Linked DNA regions of Homo sapiens. The protein of the gene in region 1 interacts with the protein of each later gene in a biochemical or structural test. Each region holds a gene or a part of one and is shown in the gene's direction. Other genes may lie near its edges.

Region 1 (3,118 bases):
CTCCCTTCGAATTCTGCCTACTGCATGGAGGATATAGCCTTATCAGTAATGTTTCAGAAGTGTTCCCAAGTGAAGGCCCAGCCTGTAATAGAGATTCACAATGTTTTCTCTTTGAAGTGAAGCAGTTTTGTTCATTTCCTCCCATCTCAGAATGACTTCAAATCCTGACATCCTCGACAGCCCAATACTTTGCCACAACCTGATTACAACTCTAGCTCTCTTATTTACTGGCTATATGTTATTGAGAAAAGGTAACTTTCTAGGGGAAGGGCTTATCCTGAATCTCCGTTTTCTTATCTGTAAGAATGTATTCCACTAACATTTTTAGGACAGTAGCATATAATAGTTATTGTCACTTATTAAATAATTCCAGCACCTTTCCTTTAGGACTGTTCATTTTATTGCATTAACTTATGTACATATGGAACTCAACAATGAAATATTAGTGTTGCTAGTATGCACATCAAAGCAAAAGGAAAATGTATTTTAAAACAAATCCAGTTGTATTTAAGGAGCTGAAATCACTGATCCTATGCTTACAGCAATTCTTAGAGGAAAATGACTAAAACCATAGACATGTCCAGAAGATGTGCCCATGGCTATGTCTAAAAAGTACTGGTGTCATAGATATGGGGTTTTTAGGTCTTTCTCTTTCCTGTTTTCTCTAAGATGAAAATTTTTATCCACTTACTGGAGGGAAACAATAAGTTCAGCATTAGTTGAAACTGGCCCTGCCATTATTTACAGGCTCTTGTGAAAAGGGAGGCCCTAGGGCACCCAAAAGGGTCTTTAGCTTATAACCTGCTTTGGTTTCTTCTGCAGGTTTGTCCTGGTTGTGGTCAAGACTGGATGATGTAACTGGCTCTCTAGGAAGCCTCACTTGGCCGTAACCTCAGGAAGGTTCTCTTTGACCCCATCTCATTTCGAAGCCACTTCTGAAGCCACTTGAGAAAAATGATGTGACAGTTCCTATCAAAAAGGATTCAGAAACATATACCATCTGTGAAGAAAGTGGCCCTTTCTCCCGCTTGCAAAATAGACATTCTCAAATTCCAAAATGCCAGCCAAGACCCCAATTTACCTGAAAGCAGCCAATAACAAGAAAGGAAAGAAATTTAAACTGAGGGACATTCTGTCTCCTGATATGATCAGTCCCCCGCTTGGAGACTTTCGCCACACCATCCACATTGGCAAAGAGGGCCAGCACGATGTCTTTGGAGATATTTCCTTTCTTCAAGGGAACTACGAGCTTTTACCTGGAAACCAGGAGAAAGCACACCTGGGCCAGTTCCCTGGGCATAATGAGTTCTTCCGGGCCAACAGCACCTCGGACTCTGTGTTCACAGAAACGCCCTCCCCGGTGCTCAAAAATGCCATCTCCCTCCCGACCATTGGAGGATCCCAAGCTCTCATGTTGCCCTTATTGTCACCAGTGACATTTAATTCCAAACAGGAGTCCTTCGGGCCAGCAAAGCTGCCCAGGCTTAGCTGCGAGCCCGTCATGGAGGAAAAAGCTCAGGAGAAAAGCAGTCTGTTGGAGAATGGGACAGTCCACCAGGGAGACACCTCGTGGGGCTCCAGCGGTTCTGCATCTCAGTCCAGCCAAGGCAGAGACAGCCACTCCTCCAGCCTGTCCGAACAGTACCCCGACTGGCCAGCCGAGGACATGTTTGACCATCCCACCCCATGCGAGCTCATCAAGGGAAAGACTAAGTCAGAGGAGTCCCTCTCTGACCTTACAGGTTCCCTCCTCTCCCTGCAGCTTGATCTTGGGCCCTCACTTTTGGATGAGGTGCTGAATGTAATGGATAAAAATAAGTAACAAGATGCCAACTTTTTTCCTTTGGGGTAAAAGGTACAAAAACAAACTAACCACAGTTGAAGAGAAGGGCTTCCGGAGCTGTATTTGCAGTTTTGTGTTGGGTTTTCTAAAATAATATTCTTACAAAGTATTTTTTTACCTGTTATGCCCTGTTTGCAAAAACAATTTAGAAAAAAACAACAAAGCAAAACCTATCTTGGCAAAAAAAGGAAGTGAGTCAGAGCCCATTTTCAGGAGGCATTGGTGATGTTCGGCTCACATATTGTTTGCAGACACACAAGAAATCTGGCTTGGCCAGGATTGGCACTAGCTATGAAGGGCTGAGCGAGTCACATTAAGGAACTTCACGGAACTTTATAGCACTCCGACATTTTCTGAGCAAGAGGAAGTCAAAATTTATTTAACACCTAAGCCTTTTTGTAGACTCTTTTCTATATATTGCTTAGGCTCACCATAGCGAATTCTCCAGTGTTAAAACTTTTCTGTTTTCACATTTGAACTTTATGGGTTTTGGGGATTTTCTTGTAGTTCTTATATATCCCTATATATTATATCTATATTGCAAAATTTTGACTGTCAGCTACATGTTGGTAAGACACAGGCAAAGTATTACTGTAACTAAGTTATTTTTAAAGTTAAAATATATTTTTACGTGCCTTTGGCTTTTTATTGCAGAGTCTACATTTTATAGATTCTACATCAGATGTTGTCACTTATTTCCATTGGGATTCCATTGTAAGCTGTGTATGTGCGTGTTTGGAAAAGTGTATTCATACTTAGTTTTTTTTTCTTCATCTGTTATCATACTTTTAACAGCAACCAATAACGGATTGTAAAGTGTAAAGGCACAGGTTACTCATGATGCTTCTGCAGAGACTGTGGGCTACACCACATATGTTATTTGGAAATATAGGTATTTTAGTACAGTACATACTTGCATTACATAGGTACTTCAAGCAACACAATAAAAAGTAAATGATAAAGTGAACTTGCTTGTTTATAGTAATAAACAAGACCATAAGAGAATAAGTATAGCTAGAGAAATTGCTTCTCTGAAATGTACATGAGCCCTTAAGGTAAGAGATGATTTCCATCTACTCTCATTTTGATTACTTCCTTATGGTTTGAGAGGCTAGAAACTGAGCCTCTCTACTTTTGGAAAAATGAACATGTGAGGTCAGATTTTTTTTTTTTTTTTTAAGTCAGCACTGATGCCACCCTCTCAGTGGTCATTTCTGAGCATCTTCCTGACTTGAACACCTTCTACAGCAAACTCTTGCAAGTCCAGTTTCATCC
Region 2 (3,519 bases), on another chromosome or scaffold:
GTTTGTTTTTGAGATGGAGTCTTGCTCTGTTGCCCAGGCTGGAGTGCAGTGGAGTGATCTTGACTCACTGCAACCTCTGCCTCCTGGATTCAAGCGATTCTCCTGCCTCAGCCTCCCAAGTAGCTGGAATTAGAGGCATGCGCCACCACACCTGGCTAATTTTTGTATTTTTAGTAGAGGCGGGGGTTTCGCCAGGTTGGCCAGGCTGGTCTTGAACTCCTGACCTCAGATGATCCACCCACCTCAGTCTCGCAAAGTGCTGGGATTATAAGCGTGAGCCACTAGGCTTGGCCACCTTTGTCTTTTTAAGAAGTCATTTTGCTTCTGGGGACATTAAAAATTGTTTACTTTTATGTTTTATAAAAGCGTTAAGTTGTCCTATAAACTATAACAATTTTATATGCAACGCTGAAAAAGTTGGACTTTGAATTTTCTTAACTTTGGGATGTTACAGTAAAAGTAAATAGTAAATTACTGTCTCTCTTGATTTTATACAGAAAAAATGTATAAAGTTGCACTAATATCTTTTAAAGTATTTTTATGTGAAAAGCCTATTTTGGCCTTGTCCTGTTGGATTTTCTGGCCTGAGCTGCCCTACTGTAGTTGACCACGGGAAGTATAATGGTAAATTTCTCTTTTCTTATTTTGGTTTATACAAGAAAAGTAATGGGCAGCGTGCAGTGGCTCAGGGCTGTAATCCCTTTGCTTTGGGAGGCTGAGGCAGGAGGATCACTTGGGTCAAGGAGTTCGAGACCAGCCTGAGTAATGTAGCCAGACTCCGTGTCTACAAAAAAAAATAAAAAATAAAAATCAGCTAAGCGTGCACACTTGTGGTCCCAGCTAGTTGGGGGGCTGAGGTGGGACAATCACTTGAGCATGGGAGTTTGAGGTTGCAGTGAACTATGATTGTGCCATTGCACTCTGACCCTGTCTCTTAAAAAAAAAAAAAGAAATGATTGGAAAATGCACATCCAGCAATCACTAGTTTCATAGTTTTTTGTAAAAATAAATCACATTGTCAGAGAGAAGACCTATTTGTCTTATTTAAAATAGGTAATCTGACAACGTGATTATCTTTTTAAGACATCTTATTTAAGACAAATGGGTTGAGTGACAGGAGATTCTTTTGGAAACTCGGAGATGGCCTATGATGAAGCCTAAATGTCACTGTGAAAGTCTTGACCTGCTTTCTCCATCCTGGCCAACATCCTAGCCTGGTCAACCTGGTGAAACCCCATCTCTACAAAAAATACAAAAAAATTAGCTGGGCATGGTGGCTCATGCCTGTAATCCCAGCTCCTGGGAAGAATGAGGCACGAGAATCCCTTGAACTTGGGAGGCGGAGGTTGCAGTGAGCTGAGATTGTGCCACTGCGCTCCAGCCTGGGCGACAGGGCAAGACCCTGGCTCCGAAAAGAAAGTCTTTACCTGCTTCCTGCAGGTACCCTTTCTTTTTTGCAGACTTGCTGCCCATAGCTGGTAGCCAGGATTCCCTTCCTTTTGCTGTTTTCCTTCTCATTGGTTGGTCCTGTATACTTGTCTTAGAGCAAGTTTCTTCTTGTGGGATATTTGTTTATGCTTTTATTCTGTTCTACCAGTATGACCTCTAAACTCAAAGAGTTGGTACTCTTGAAGTTGAGTGAGGGTACATTAAGATGTGGTGGTTAGGACACGGGCCTGCAGCAAGATTCAAGTGCTTTGATATTCCTTTTAAGCAGATGAGTGAATACTGTGTTTTTGAATTGGAAGAGTGTGTCTTAGTGAGTTAAACTTGCATTGACTGCAGATTTTCACTAAATATCCTACTCTCCAAATTATTTAAGGTCATTTTAAAAAATAAGGAGAAAGCAACCCAAATCAGTAGACAGAATGAGTTATGTGGCTTTCTTTAGCTTTACTGTCTTTCATTTACTCAGTAACTTGATGCCTTTTTGTATCTCATGCCAAATGTCTTCTGTCCCTCAGTTTCTTGCACACGGAGTGTACCTCTCCGACAACACAGCATATTTGACTTGTTTTGTTGGTGTTTGGTTGCGTCATGATATATCTTTGATTAGGTTGTTCACTTGCTGCTTCTGAGCCAGAGACACACCCGAGACTTAGTAGCTTCTGCAGAGCCTCTCAGATGTTTGCTGAATGATAGTTTGGTCTTTTTGTGAGAAATAACTTTTTTTTTGGGGGGGTGGGGGCAGGGTCTCACTCTGTCACCGAGGTTGGAATGCATTGGGGCAATAATGGCTTACTGCAGCCTCGACCTCTTGGGCTCAGGTGATGATCCTCCTACTTCAGCCTCCTGAGTAGCTGGGACTCCAGAAACACCCTACCATGCCTGGCTAATTTTTGTGTTGTTTTGTAGAGACAGGGTTTCGCTGTGTTGCTCAGGCTGGTCTCAAAGTCTGCCTGCCTCAGCCTTCCAAAGTGCTGGGATTATAGGCTTGAGCCACCATGCCCTGCCTGAGAACTATCTCTTTTTCTTTGTTATTCACACACTCAGTGAAAATCCCAGGTAGTATTGTAATGATTATCTGGCTTTGTTTAGCTTCCCAACTCCCTCCCCCTCACAGTGTTCCTCCAGCATTCCCATTGTGCGTCTATGACTGGTCTTACCCTTGAATGGGTCCTTCATTTTGACCACTGAAGCAAAGCAAAATTCTTGCCTTATTATATCTAAGTTTTAGAATTACTGGAATTTGAGCATGACCTAGTTGTTTGGATTGAATTAGTCATTGTTTTTAATTTTACAAAGGTTTTTCAATATCTCTTTGGTTAAGCTTTATTAATATTGATGCTTCTTGGCTTTTCTTTTTATGAATAGGCCTCTGAACTCCCTGGGACTTTGTTTTATGTAAAAATCAAAACCTTAATCAGGCACTAGGATAAACAAATACTGTGCAGAATAGAGTTCTAGAAGGCTAGAAAGGCCTTTGGAGTATTTGAATTATTTTAAATATTAGGTGCCTCTTCTTTAAACCCTGGAATAGACTCTTAAGTCCATCTCTGCACAAGTAGTTTAGAATTTCCTAAAGTATTTTTTCTTTAATTTTTTTTTTCTTTTTGTGTGTGTGTGTGTGTGTGTGTGTGTGTGTGTGTGTGTGTTTGTGAAATAGAGATAGGGCCTTTTTATGTTGCCCAAGCTGGTCTTGATCTCCTGGCCTCAAATGGTCCTCCCCACTCAGCCTCCCAAAATGTTGGGATTAGAGGCGTGAGCCACCATACCCAACCAGTATTTTTTATTTAGTGGATATTTTATGTCATACTCTGAGGTTATTCCCCTTTGTCCGTGAAGAGGTGAGGGGCTTTAACTCTGTATTATAGGAGGGGAATGAGTGGGGAAAGGAGGAATTGGACATTTCTGTTTTTCTTCTCATCTACCTATTAACTTGCTTCTATCCATGGGAGCCCTTTCTTTTTTTTTTTTTTTTTTTTTTTTGAGACTGAGTCTCGCTCTGTTGCCCAGGCTGGAGTGTAGTGGCGCTGTCTGAGCTCATTGCAACCTCCACCTCCTGGGTTCAAGTGATTC

Evidence for each region.
Region 2: the proteins of CDC42EP3 (region 1) and MFHAS1 form a complex in vitro, tested with the Homo sapiens proteins (one large-scale study listed by BioGRID and IntAct).

Annotation. Positions count from the first base shown.
Region 1 is NC_000002.12:37,644,527-37,647,644, reverse strand, and holds part of CDC42EP3 (cdc42 effector protein 3), read left to right. Parts: exon of another isoform or gene 1-251; intron 252-822; 5' UTR 823-1,057; coding exon 1,058-1,822; 3' UTR 1,823-3,118.
Region 2 is NC_000008.11:8,883,618-8,887,136, reverse strand, and holds part of MFHAS1 (malignant fibrous histiocytoma-amplified sequence 1), read left to right. Parts: intron 1-3,519. UniProt on the Homo sapiens protein: Probable GTP-binding protein. Functions in innate immunity and more specifically the inflammatory response as a regulator of the Toll-like receptor TLR2 and TLR4 signaling pathways.